4 linked regions of the Homo sapiens genome follow. The protein of the gene in region 2 purifies or fractionates together with the protein of the main gene of each other region. This does not show direct contact. Each region holds a gene or a part of one and is shown on either strand. Other genes may lie near its edges.

What was found. Proteins that work in one complex are often made in the same cells at the same time.
Region 1: the proteins of DHX40 (region 2) and ZC3H8 fractionate together in Homo sapiens (co-fractionation; one large-scale study listed by BioGRID). This does not show direct contact.
Region 3: the proteins of DHX40 (region 2) and EXOC2 fractionate together in Homo sapiens (co-fractionation; one large-scale study listed by BioGRID). This does not show direct contact.
Region 4: the proteins of DHX40 (region 2) and SSH3 fractionate together in Homo sapiens (co-fractionation; one large-scale study listed by BioGRID). This does not show direct contact.

The regions. Positions count from the first base shown.
Region 1 is NC_000002.12:112,248,543-112,252,042, reverse strand, and holds part of ZC3H8 (zinc finger CCCH domain-containing protein 8), read left to right. Parts: intron 1-1,770; coding exon 1,771-1,852; intron 1,853-3,500.
Region 2 is NC_000017.11:59,596,610-59,600,109, reverse strand, and holds part of DHX40 (probable ATP-dependent RNA helicase DHX40), read right to left. Parts: intron 1,374-3,500; coding exon 1,259-1,373; intron 736-1,258; coding exon 627-735; intron 1-626. UniProt on the Homo sapiens protein: Probable ATP-dependent RNA helicase.
Region 3 is NC_000006.12:683,140-686,639, reverse strand, and holds part of EXOC2 (exocyst complex component 2), read left to right. Parts: intron 1-3,500. UniProt on the Homo sapiens protein: Component of the exocyst complex involved in the docking of exocytic vesicles with fusion sites on the plasma membrane.
Region 4 is NC_000011.10:67,306,530-67,309,810, forward strand, and holds part of SSH3 (protein phosphatase Slingshot homolog 3), read left to right. Parts: intron 1-308; coding exon 309-433; intron 434-512; coding exon 513-584; intron 585-841; coding exon 842-907; intron 908-1,019; coding exon 1,020-1,208; intron 1,209-1,316; coding exon 1,317-1,410; intron 1,411-1,644; coding exon 1,645-1,773; intron 1,774-1,882; coding exon 1,883-1,929; intron 1,930-2,867; coding exon 2,868-3,014; intron 3,015-3,238; coding exon 3,239-3,281. UniProt on the Homo sapiens protein: Protein phosphatase which may play a role in the regulation of actin filament dynamics. Can dephosphorylate and activate the actin binding/depolymerizing factor cofilin, which subsequently binds to actin filaments and stimulates their disassembly.

The sequences.
Region 1 (3,500 bases), on a different chromosome or scaffold from region 2:
ATAGACAAAGAAGAGAAGAGGTGAGAACTGACTTTGAAAGTTGTGAAGATAAGGAACCAACAAAGGAGACTGAGAAGTAGTAGCTGTGGAAAGAAGAAACTAGAAGAGCCCACTATCTCTGAAGCTAAGTAAAGAACATGTTTTACAGAGAAGAGGTGGTCACCTCTGTCCTATCCTGCTCATAGGTCTAATATGGGTGCTGAGTATTGTAGACCTTCACAGTGAAAGTAGACATCTATTTAGAATGGGCAGTGTTGAATAACAGTGTGATTGTAGGGCACATACTTGGGAGCTTTGCCTGCCTGCTGGGGCTCAGATCTCAGCTCCACCATGTATTAGCTCTGTGACAAGTTACATATCCTTTCTGTGATTGTTTTCTCATCCGTAAAATGGGCTTTTAGTATGTATGTCATAACACTGTTGTTTGTGGTAAGTGTTACGTGTATGGAGCAGCATCTGGCACAGAGTAAGCATCATTCAAGTGTTGGCTGATGCTGTTACTGCTATTGAGGTCATTATTGTCATTATTCCTCTGCCTAAGGAGAGGTTGCCTCCTACTCCATGAGATGATTCATTACTGGAAACTATAGCTATAAAGATTCACAAGTATTGGGGTTTTTGGTTCTTGTAATGGTGGCTTCTGTAGCAGGCTCACAACTTAGTACCTCATCTGATGGATGTAACTCTGGAGCTCTGAGTCAGTGTAAACTGTTGAATTGGACAAAGCTGTGAAGCCTGAGCTCCTGTAACTTTGAAAGAACAGCCACGGAGCCACTGTTCACATTCTCCTTGTGCTGTCAGTGCTTTCCCTTTGTAACATGTTCTCTTGAGATGGGACACATTCCCCAATTCCTTGCCTTTATCTGGTGTGTAACTCATATTTTAATTCACAGCTTTTCCCAATCTTGTGTTCAATAGTCACCACTTACTAAGATAATATTTTCTTCAGCTCCCTATATTTCTAGTATCAACCATTATTCAGATACATCTATACATTTTATTGTCTTCTTTGTTCACCATGTTCTTATATTTCCCATCCCTCTTGGGTTCATATTTAGTTTTGCTGGAATAGCCTCAAGTAATTGTCTCAGACTGTTATATATATGCATGGTCAACTTCTCAGTCCTGTAAGTCTGAAAACAGTTTTTCTTTTTCATCTTTACACTTAAATGTGTTTGTCTCGCTCCTAATCTCAAAAGGCACTCTGCATTCTGCCTAAAATACCCTTCTCTCTCACATTCCTCTTTCCTCTTTTTTGGCTAACTCATAAGTATCATTTAGGCTCTGAATGCCTCTGATCCCCAAGTCTGGGTTGTGTTCCCCATATATGCCCCTATACTTACCATACCATATTGAAATAGCTTTATTTTTTTCTCCCAAGGAGATAGAAAGCTCTCAGAACACAGTGACAGGGTCTGTATTTTTCATTGTTGTAGTCCAGGGCCTAAGGCCCGGAGCCTCGTACATGGTGGGTACTTAGTAGTTGTTGAATTAATGGAATGATGGATGAATGAATGATTTATATAGCTGCTAATACTTGAACATTAAGGCTTTATAATCTAAAATTTTACAGGCTATTCATAAATATATATGGACATTTATTGGTCATCATAATTTTGTACATTTTCTGGAGTATTTGGTATAGAATTTGAATTTGTAATTTCTTTGAGGGTAAGTTGAAGACAAGCCAAAGCAGTGAATTGTAACGCTGTGGTATGAACACTTCAGGTTGAAAAAACTCTTTTGTGTTATTTGATATTTTTGCTACAGAATCGATGATGAAATAGATACAGAAGTTGAAGAAACACAAGAAGAGAAAATTAAACTGGAGTGCGAGCAAATTCCCAAAAAAGTAAGATTAAGTTGACCACTGTTTAAGTTGAAAACGCAGATTTTTTTTTCTCAGTTTCACATGGAACAACAAAAAAAGAAAAAACAGATGGAAATGGATATGAGAAATTAATGAAGGATCCTACTTGTCTCATTTTACCAGCATTTGGGACCCAGTTACTTATATCAAAGAAAACTGGTTATACTTTTTAAATAAATTATTATTTAATAACTTTATTGTCATTTAACATGACATATGTTTAATAATTGCATTTATTTCTATTTTTGTTATTTCTGAAATGGACTGTAAACAGTTTCAAAAGCTTCTTTCAAGTTGGGTTAACATTTTTGAGGGTTATGATTTGTTAACTTAACCAACCTTAGTGATTTATAGCTTAAAGCCCGTATTAGTTCATTAGGGCTGCCATAACAAAGTACCACAGACTGGGTGGCTTAAACAACAGAACTTGGCTGGGCGCGGTGGCTCACGCCTGTAGTCCCAGCACTTTGGGAGGCCGAGGTGGATGGATCATGAGGTCAGGAGTTTGAGACCAGCCTGGCCAATATGGTGAAACCCATCTCTACTAAAAATACAAAAAAATTTAGCCAGGCATGGTGGCATGCACCTGTAGTCCCAGCTACTAGGGAGGCTGAGGCAGAAGAATCACTTGAACCCAGGAGGTGGAGGTTGCAGTAAGCCAAAATCCCGCCACTGCACTCCAGCCTGGGCAACAAAGCGAGACTCCGAATCAAAACAAAAACAAAAACAAAAAAAACCCCAGAACTTTATTGTCTCAAGGTTCTGGAGGCTGGAGGTCCCAGCACAAGGTGTTGGCAGGGTTGGTTCCTTCTGAGGCTGTGGGGAAGAATCTATTCATTCATCTCCCCTAGCTCCTGATGGAATGCTGGCAATCTTTGGTGATGGCTTGCAAAAGTATCATCCTGATTTCTGCCTTCATATTCACATGGTGTTCTCCCTGTATGCCTGTGTCTGAATTGTCTGAATTTCCTTTTTTTGAGACAGAGTCTTGCTCTGTCACCCAGGTTGGAGTGCAGTGGCACAATCTCTGCTCACTGCAACCTCCTTCTGGACTCAAGCAATTCTCAGCCTCCCAAGTAGCTGGGATTACAGGTGTGCACCACCACGCCCAGCTAATTTTTGTGTTTTTTGTAGAGAAAAAATATACATGGGGTTTCGCCATGTTGCCCAGGCTGGTCTCGAACTCCTGGGGTCAAGCGATCTGACCGCCTCGGCCTCCCAAAGTGCTGGGATTACAGGCCTGAGCGACTGTGCCCGGCTGAATTTTCCTTTTTTATAAGGAAATCAGTCACTGGACTAGGGCCCACCCTAATGACCTAATCTTAATTAATTACACTTGCAATGACCCTATTTCCAAAAAAGGTCACATTCTGAGGTATTAGGGGTTAGTAGTTCATTATAAGAATTTTGGGAGGGTGCAGTTCAACCCATAACAAAGGTAATGTATATTCCTATCTTGCCCTTCTTTTCTGTTTTTGAACATGGAGAAACGCCATCTCTACTAAAAATACAAAATTAGCCAAGCATGGTGGCAGGCACCTGTAATCCCAGCTACTCAGGGAGCTGAGGCAGGAGAATCGCTTAAACCCGGGAGGCAGAGGTTGCGGTGAGCCGATATCATGCCATTGCA
Region 2 (3,500 bases):
GCTCATGCCTGTAATTCCAGCACTTTGGAAGGCCGAGGCAGGTGGATCACTTGAGGTCAGGAGTTTGAGACCAGCCTGGCCAACACGGCAAAACCCCATCTCTACTAAAACTACAAAAATTAGCCGGGTGTGGTGACGCAAGCCTGTAATCCCAGCTACTTGGGAGGCTGAGGCAGAAGAATTGCTTAAACCTGGGAGGTGGAGATTGCAGTGAGCCGAGATCACGCCACTGCACTTCAGCCTGGGTGACAGAGTGAGACTCCATCTCAAAAAAAAAAAAAGGTGGGGGGGAGGATGAGAAAACTGGGAGATGATGGATATGTACCATTATCTTGATAGTTGTTTTACGCAAATGTCAAAACTCATCAAAGTGTATACATTAAATATGTGTAGGTTATCACACGTCAATTATATATCAGGAAAGCAATTTTTAAATATCTTCATTTCTGTGAAGACAATTCTTTTATCACTACTAGGAATGTTTCATGGGGTCAAGGAGGTCATAGAAACAAATAGAATGGAAGGGTGGTAGAATAGAAAGGGTGCTAATGTACATCAATGAAACTTCAATATGAAATATATAGGTCCAAAATGCTACTCAAGAAAAAAAACATTACGGCAATCACCTGTTTAAGCTTCCTGATTAGTTCTCGAAGTTGAGCTTCCACACGAAATGCAGAAAATAAGCACCTCCAATGAATCCAGTGTTTTTGGCACCATGAAGCTGGAGCTCCACTGCAAAACAAAAAACTGGTATCTTTAAAATATCTTCTCTAAGTAAAAGACAATCTAAAATTCTCATTTCTATTACAAAAGTGGAAACCCATAAACAACTGTCAGTTCCTTCAGGAGACCTGTCCAAGTACTAAAAAAGAATTTTAGGAAACTTGAAAAAAACATTTAAATTAATGAATGTGCCCCTGACTAAATTAAAAAATAATTTGTAAATGGATTTCTTTACTTATATATGCAATAACAAATATCCAATCATTTTTTAATCTAGGCTACCTATATAGAAGCAAAATTCTATAAGGTCATTTTCAGTAAAGGTTTGAGGAGAAAAGAAGAGAATCAATGTTATATAATAAATGCCTACTAAGCAATAGTCATCTGACATAGATAATTTCACTGAAATTCAAAATACCTTGAAGTCAATATCATCTTCACTGAACGTTAGTGTCACAAGCCACATCATAAGTACGTATTGGAACTATACATCAAATTGACATTTTTCAGGACAAAGGACTACCTTACATACCTTGATTTGCATTGTTCAAAGATGACAGCTAAAGTTGCAAAGTCATTAAATCCTCCAGCTTTAGCTGCCAATTCTCGATGTCTCTGTTCTGCTTCCTTCTGGTACTCTGGATCAACTAAAAGAATTGGAGAGGCAATTCAGTTATACTTTGCATTAAGTGCCTACAATCACTTTGCTTTCAGAAACTCATTAAAATCTGCCTCATCCTCTGGGGTGAAGTAAGGTAGAACTATATTAACTCTTCTTAACTTCTCTTAGGAAGCTCTATTTCTCCCACAATTCCTTTTTTTCTTTTCATATCACTTTGGAGATTTTACCTGAATAGCAACATTACTTCTCCCAATCTATTTGCCTTTTAAAAATAGTATTTGTAATTTACTTTTTAAATTAGTTTTGTTATAAGAGTAATCCATGCTTACAGAAAAAAAAATGTAATGGTATAAAAGAATATCATGTAAAAGTTCAATGTTCCCCAGTCACACTACCCATAAACCAATCCTCAAGACAAAGTACTGTTCATTATTTAGTGTGTGTCCTTCCAGGTAATTTCTATGTATATATAAGCATATGTACATAGTGTTTCATTTTTCTATAAATGGAATATATAATCTGAAAATTTGTTTATTTAATAACAACTCCATATCAGTACATATAGAATTATTCTTTCTCAAAAATAGCAATATAGGGCCAGGTGTGGTAGCTCACACCTGTAATCCCAGCAATTTCAAAGGCCAAGGCAAGTGGATCAATTGAGCCCAGGAGGTCAAGACAAGCCTAGGCAACAAAGCAAGATCCTGTCTCTACAAAATATACAAAAATTAGCCAGGCATGGTGATGCATGCCTGTAGTCCCAGCTACTCAGGAGGCTGAGGTGGGAAGATCGCTTGAGCCCAGGAGGTTTTTTTTTTTTTTTTTTTGAGACGGAGTCTCGCTCTATCGCCCAGACTGGAGTGTAGTGGCGCGATCTCGGCTCACTGCAAGCTCCGCCTCCCGGGTTCACACCATTCTCCTGCCTCAGCCTCCCGAGTAGCTGGGACTACAGGCGCCCGCCACCGCGCCCGGCTAATTTTTTGTATTTTTAGTAGAGACGGGGTTTCACATGTTAGCCAGGATGGTCTCGATCTCCTGACCTTGTGATCTGCCCGTCTCGGCCTCCCAAAGTGCTGGGATTACAGGCATAAGCCACCGTGCCCGGCCCAAGCCCAGGAGGTTGAGGCTACAGTGAGCCGTGATCGCATCACTGCACTTTGGCCTGGGCAACAGAGTGAAACCTTGTCTAAAGAAAAAAACAATGATATGGTATTCCCCAGGAGTATGGGGAACATAACACAATTTAACCAGTTCTTATTTATCCAATTCCCAATTATGGGCAATTAGACATGATCTCCATATATGCAGAACTGACCTACTACGAACATTTTCTTTTTTAATGTAATATTGAAGTATAATATGCATACAGAAAATTACACAGGACGTAAGTGTGTAGCTCATATAATATTCACAAACACAACATACCAATGTACCCAGATCAACAAACAGTATCACCAGCATCTCAACAGCCCCCTTTTATGCCCTCCTTCGAGTAACTACCCATTCCCTTCCACAAGAATAACTATATCCTGACTTCTAATCCTACAGATGGGTTTTGCCCATTTTTAACCTTTGTATAAATGAATCGTATAGTATGTACTTGATGTGTCTGTTTTCTCTTGCTCAACATTACGTTTTTGAGATTTATCTGTTAATTACTTCGATACCACTTCCCCTGATCCCATTCAGGACTCATGTGCTCTCTGATTGCCCAAATTCCCCATACAGCACTTTATCCAGGGCTAATCTTTCAGAGTGCCATTTTTTCAAAACTGCATAGGGATCCTTTCCTTCAATCTAACACGTCACATCACAATTCCTATTCCCTATACCTATCACAGCTAGATCTAGCAGAGGCACAATGTTGCCTGAATCCAGGGAGCAGCATTTACTATAGAATACGATGTGAATCTGCAAAGCAGCAGTTCCTGTTACTAGGAGGAAAGTAATTTGATTAAAGAAAACACTGATGAAGGTATAAAGTCTTCTATCCCATGCTTTAAGTAGCTTCCAACTATGTTACCTAGGTAGCAACTGAATGAAGCAGCTAGAGACAAAAAAATAAAAAAGAATATGATTTATCTCAGACCATACAAACATACAAATGACCCTGGTAAGGAAAAGATATAAATGATTATTAATCTCCATTTCT
Region 3 (3,500 bases), on a different chromosome or scaffold from region 2:
AGAACAGCTGAGTAATCCGGTATATATATAACAGATCTCTTTTATGGGGGCTCTGAGAGCTAAGTTGTCAGGCATTCCCTATATACTTGTCTGGCTTCCAGTATTCCTTCCTAGTCATCTCATGCACATTCTCGTCCCCTTAATCTCTCACCTCCAAACATTGTAGAGGGAGGGAAGGCCTTTATTCCCATTCCTAAAATAAATAAATAAAAATCAAGTGTCATTTATCAGTTATATGGTTTAAATTATTGGATTATTTTCCCAAAAGAATTAAAATATAAACAAATATGCTTTCATTTGAAACCATAGATAGTAGTTCATGTATTTTTTTGTTTGTAGAGGTAGAGAAGGAAAAGAAGTATAAAAAGAGGTCCAGGAGGCCGGGCGCGGCGGCTCACACCTGTAATCCCAGCACTTTGGGAGGCCGAGGAGGGCGAATCATGAGGTCAGGAGTTTGAGACCATCCTGGCCAATATGATGAAACCCCGTCTCTACTAAAAATACAAAAAAATTAGCTGGGCATGGTGGCGCATGCCTGTAATCCCAGCTACTTGGGAGGCTGAGGCAGGAGAATCGCTTGAACCAAGGAGTCGGAGGTTGCAGTGAGCCCCACTGCACTTCAGCCTAGTGACAGAGTAAAACTCCGTCTCAAAAAAAAAAAAAAGAGGTCCAGGAAAGCAGGATACATTAATACATTACTTCTTACCTGTTCAGTCCAACCTGGCGACAGAGCAAGACTCCGTCTCAAAAAAAAAAAAAAAAAAAAAAAAGAGGTCCAGGAAAGCAGGATACATTACTTCTTACCTGTTCAGTCCTCCCCTTCTGCAAATGGCCCTTCTGAGACCCAGCGAGTCTTCTGCCCTTATCAGGCCGTAACTCTATACAATTTGGCCCCTATGAGTTCTTTCAGATCTGTGCATGCTTGTATTTTTGTTAACTATGATTTGGGGATGGAGCAGGAGGAGCAAGAGGATTAATTTGGAAAACTGGATTACAGAGTTCATGACCCTGTCTCTGAGACTTGTCCCACTGTGTGCTGTTATATGGTAGAATTTGTGGCAGTGCTAATGTAACTTGCACTTGATCTCACTCAGGAAGTGTGGAGTCTGTGTTTATAGAGAACTGGGGAAGAAAATCACCATTTTCCCGAACCCTTTCCCCAATATCTCTGGGCAATCCCTTTGGGTCCAGCCCAACCCAGCCCAGCAGGGACAAGTCTGTCTTAGGTTAGGTTGGGCCTGACTCTAGAAAGATTTGGTGAATTCTCTACTTTGATTATATTTTATGGTGCCCTGAGAGTTGGCTGAGCCTAATTTTACTGTTGAAACTCACTAGGCAGCTCTGCAACAGGATTCTTCTGGGGTCCTCTGGACCCAAAGTGGTTCTGGACAGCTAAGGCTACTGAGATTCTGCTTGATTTGTTCCCTGGTGATGCCAGTGCTGCCAGGTTGAGGCATATATGGGGAAGGGTGGACGTTTGGGAGGGTTGTGTGTGTGTGTGTGTGTGTGTGTTTTCAAATGATTGTGGGGAAAATCACCTTTCTATAGTCTGATCTGTTAGCGAAATAGTGTTTTCACATCATGAGGCCTTCCGTGGCCTGTTGAGTAGAGGTTATCCTAGTCTTCAGTGAGTCAGAACTTCTGTATTTTTCTGGTTCCTGGCCTTCTCTAGCTGAGAAGAACATCTGGGAGCATGACAAGGTGAGACCGTGATCACTCATTTTGTTCAGATTTCTTGTCTGCTGTTGAAATCAGCGAAACTCTTCATTACTAAATAGTAAAAAGTACTGCTTTTATGATTCTAAAACTACTTTCAGTTGTGGTTTCATTTCTGATTTTTTTCTTTATATTATTACTGCTAACTTTTTCTGTGTATTTTTAGTCTGAAGTTCTGTGAAAAATGACAACTTACTGTCTTTTTTTCTAGTAGTAAATATTTTGGAAAATTAAAATTGTGCCACAGTTTTAATTTGAGAAATTAAATATGGGAAAATTATAGAATTAAAATTTTCTGACTTCTGTTGCAGAAAACACTTTAAATCCATCCCTGTATGCTTCATTAAAGGAAAAGAGGCAGATGGTTTAAAATTAATATAGTATATCTATAAGGAAAATGTATTTACTTAAGTGTACAGTATAAATTGTAAGAAAATGTGGCCTTTTGTCTTGATTTTAGTGAAATGCTTTTGTAATAGTAATTTTCTCTTTTGACCTGTGATGGATAGGAGGTTAATTGATGTTAAATGGATGCTTTGTTAATCCTTCATCAGCTACTAAATTGGTATGGGGGAGTACAGGTCAAGACTACACAAGGCCATGACCAGCTTGTTTTCTCAGGGAGGTTTATGGATTCCACCCCTCCCCCTTCTCTAAACCACACATCACTCTCTCCAGCTGCACATAGGGAAGACTCTCCTGTCTCCCCTCCCCCTCTTCCTGCGGTCCTGTCTCCCCCTCCCTAACCTCATCCTTCTCCCTCTCTGGGCTGCTGCAGAGTGACAGCTTGTAGATGTTGCGTGCGAGGGAGTTCAGCTGGCGCTGTGTGGTCCGAGTGTGTGGTCTCCCGCTCAGCCGAGAGGCTGCTAACAGGGTGGATGAGAGAGAGAGCAACACTGTTTACTTTAATTTATTTCGGATGCCGGAATTGTGCCCAGAGTTTCTCCTGAGCTTGATTCCATAGCTAGCAGCTTCAATCCTTCGCAGCTGCGGTGCGTTCTGAACTCTGGGCTGTCCTTTCCTGACAGGCACTTTCCATAGCATCTGCCTGCTTAATCCCTCACGGCTCAGAAATGTTAACGGCACTGTTGAGTGCTGTGATTATTTTGCTTTCACTATGTCAAGATTTATGGCCTTCGAGAAGCTTCTTTTGAGATAGAGCTAGAGAAGGAAAGCAGAATTTGTAAGATCAGTGACAAAGTTGATGTATTTTTGGAAATTGGAAAAGCTATTATACAAAATTTGGGTCAAATTAATCCAACTTTGCTCATATAAAAGAACCTGGGAGTTAGCGACATCCTGTCATGTTTAACAGTTTTAATGAAATTAACCAATTTAAGCTGACGGTTGGTTTCTTGACCTTTTCTGAAACTCTGCATTGATTTTGGCATGCCTGTTTACCATAGTTATTATATTTGTCAGCGGTGATATTGGTTTATTTCATCCTAAAGATTTGACAAGTCGAGACAAATGAAACTTTGTTTTTATGTAGTAGTATAAATTTAGGAGAATATCTTTTTATCCAATCCTTTCATTATGAATAGCTTAGTAATATTTTCTTGATTTTGTTCCTCTCTCATTCCTGAACATTATTGTTGAGATGGTCAAGTATTTTGTTATTTGAATAAACATATGTAGACTCTTGATATCACTTGGGATTTTGCATTGTTTAGCTTCTTTATTTTCATGTCTTCCTGGCAGTCTTGCTGGAATGGAGTTGGTGGTGTTGATGTTTGTCAAGGATTAGAAAGTCTAGGCCACTCACATCTTCCCGCAAGGTCAGT
Region 4 (3,281 bases), on a different chromosome or scaffold from region 2:
GTTCGGGGCTACAGTGAGCTGTGATGGTGCCACTGTACTCCAGCCTGGGCGACAGAGTGAGACCCTATCTCAAAACAAAAACAAAAACAACCTCCTTCCTCAGCAGAAACAAAAAATGTGCAACCTATGTCAGTCCCATTCCCCGCTTTTTTCCACACAGTCCCTCTTTACCCACTGATTTTACATCTGGGAAGAGGGGGGATGGGAGAGGAAGGAGCAGGGTCAGCACTGTTCTGGGCCTGGGGTGTCTAGGTGGGGAGCAGGGTCCTTGGGGCCACTGTGACCCTGGGTTCCTCATCTCCCCCCAGGCAGCCCAGCTGGAGGCACCCCGGCCTCCCCGGCTCCGCTACCTGCTGGTAGTTTCTACACGAGAAGGAGAAGGTCTGAGCCAGGATGAGACGGTCCTCCTGGGCGTGGATTTCCCTGACAGCAGGTTCGAGCAGGGAGAGGAAAGGAGGGGCAAAGAGGTGAGGGACAGGGGGGACAATGGCTTTCCCTCTGTCCCCTGCCAGCTCCCCCAGCTGCACCCTGGGCCTGGTCTTGCCCCTCTGGAGTGACACCCAGGTGTACTTAGATGGAGACGGGTAAGCAATGGCAACTGGAGGTGGGGGCTGGAGGGTGGAATAACTGAGTGTGACGGATGTGACGGGGCCTGGGCACCAGGGTACAGTAGAACTTTAGGCTGGGACTCTGGGGCCTGCTCCCAGCTCCACGTCAGATTCACCGTGATCCTGAGCAAGGCACCTGACTCCTGGGTCTCGGCTTCCCGTATCCAGCAAAAGGATGGGTTCTCTGTCGCAGAGCCTGGAGTCTGGCCTCACCTGTGCCTGGTCTCCTGCAGGGGCTTCAGCGTGACGTCTGGTGGGCAAAGCCGGATCTTCAAGCCCATCTCCATCCAGACCATGTGGTAAGGACAGAGACTGCCTGGACTCAGGCCAGCCTCTCCTTCGAAGGAGGCTGCAGGGCCTGGGGAAGGGCAGCAAGGGAACAGTGTGACCCAGCCTCTCCTCCTGTCTCAGGGCCACACTCCAGGTATTGCACCAAGCATGTGAGGCAGCTCTAGGCAGCGGCCTTGTACCGGGTGGCAGTGCCCTCACCTGGGCCAGCCACTACCAGGAGAGACTGAACTCCGAACAGAGCTGCCTCAATGAGTGGACGGCTATGGCCGACCTGGAGTCTCTGCGGCCTCCCAGCGCCGAGCCTGGCGGGTCAGTGTGTGGAGGGGAGGGACTGGGTGGAGGGGAAGGCAGGATAATGCAGTGGGGGGCATGGTGGAGAGGGGAAAGGGCCCCTTGACTGAGGGGCTCTGCTCCCAGGTCCTCAGAACAGGAGCAGATGGAGCAGGCGATCCGTGCTGAGCTGTGGAAAGTGTTGGATGTCAGTGACCTGGAGAGTGTCACTTCCAAAGAGGTGGGCAGGGGGCCCGGGGACTGAGTCCCCTCTAGCAGGGGCTGCAAGCTTGCCTTTCCTGGGAGCCCTCCCCACCTTGCCTGTCTCCAGTCCTGAGCCATTCCTGGATGCCTTGGCCTTGGCCCTAATCCATCTAGATGGGATAGGGTGCTGTCCTCAGAGGTCCCAGAGGGAAGGTGGCAGGTTGGGCACTAGGAGAGCCCCAGCCTCTCTTGCCCTGGGCTCTGCCTGCAGATCCGCCAGGCTCTGGAGCTGCGCCTGGGGCTCCCCCTCCAGCAGTACCGTGACTTCATCGACAACCAGATGCTGCTGCTGGTGGCACAGCGGGACCGAGCCTCCCGCATCTTCCCCCACCTCTACCTGGTGAGCTTCAGCCAGGCCTGGGCCATGGGGACCGCTGGCAGCTGTGAGGGCGGCAGGCCAGGAGCAGAGGCTGGAGGAGAGGAGAAATGTGCTGTTCCCTCTCTCCCAGGGCTCAGAGTGGAACGCAGCAAACCTGGAGGAGCTGCAGAGGAACAGGTAGGGCTATGAGCCCCTCGGGCCACCCACCCCATCTTCCCTTCTCCTGGCCTCCCCGCATTGGGTGGTAGCCAGCTTCAAAAACCCCTGGACCACCCTCAGCAGCTGCTAGCTCTGCTTCTAACTCTGTCCTGGGGCTGTTGCCCTGGTGTGGGCTCCCAGGTGGGGACAGGAGACCTGCTGGCCAGCCCCCGCCCACTCTCCTCCCCCATCCACACTGTGAAACAAGGACAGAAACAAAGGGCCTCAGCCACGCCAAGACGAGAAGCAGCAGCGCATACTGCTGTAACTGCCTTGGACAAGCAGAAAAAGGCTCCTCTTGAATGCGCCTGTGGGCCCAGCTACTTGGGAGGCTGAGGCAGGAGGATCGCTTGAGCCCTGGAGATTGAGGCCGCAGTGAGCCGTGATCACGCCACTGCACTCCAGCCTGGGCAACAGAGAGAGACCCTGTCTCTAAAAAATAAGAAAAAAGAAAGAGAGAAAAAGCCTTTTCTCCACCTTGCCCTGTCTCAGGGAAGAAGGAACTGCCCTTCTCCCCGTGGGGACCTGGCTGCCTGCTCTGACAGGTACCTGTCATCTGCCCACCATGGGCTTCTGGGACCTGCTGTAGCCCCTGCCACCCACTGCTGCAGACCCACCCACTCTCAGCTTAGCTCAAAAGCTGTTCTCTAACTCATTTCTGAGAATAACTGAAGGGCTGGAGTTGCAGTTGGCCCAGCTGTCTGGACCAGATGGGGAAACAAGCCCAGCAGGGCAAGATGATTGGTCTAAGGTCGCAGCCAGGTGACAGCTGGGTCACTTCTCCTCCCACTGTCACTGCTGCCTCCATCTGACTTGAAACTCAGAGCTAAAGCGAGGCCCAGGGGCTGCCAGGTCCGATTGCCAGTGGGCCTGGTACCTCTGCCCACATCAGCCTGGCCTTGGGCCCTCTGGGACAGGGTCACCCACATCTTGAACATGGCCCGGGAGATTGACAACTTCTACCCTGAGCGCTTCACCTACCACAATGTGCGCCTCTGGGATGAGGAGTCGGCCCAGCTGCTGCCGCACTGGAAGGAGACGCACCGCTTCATTGAGGCTGCAAGGTCGGTCTCCTGGCTTTGCTGCCTGCCCCACTGTGGCTTCAAGCGGCCTCCGGTGCCCTCCTCCTGCCCACTCTGCCATCAGCTGTGCCATTCCTTCCAGCCCTCAGTGTCCTTCCCTCCTTCTCTACTCTCAGTTGGTTGTGAGCCCTTCACCTGCCCTCCCCTGCAGGAGGCGGGATCCTTCATGGTGAGGGGAGGGTGCTGAACCTGGCCTGCTTCCACAGAGCACAGGGCACCCACGTGCTGGTCCACTGCAAGATGGGCGTC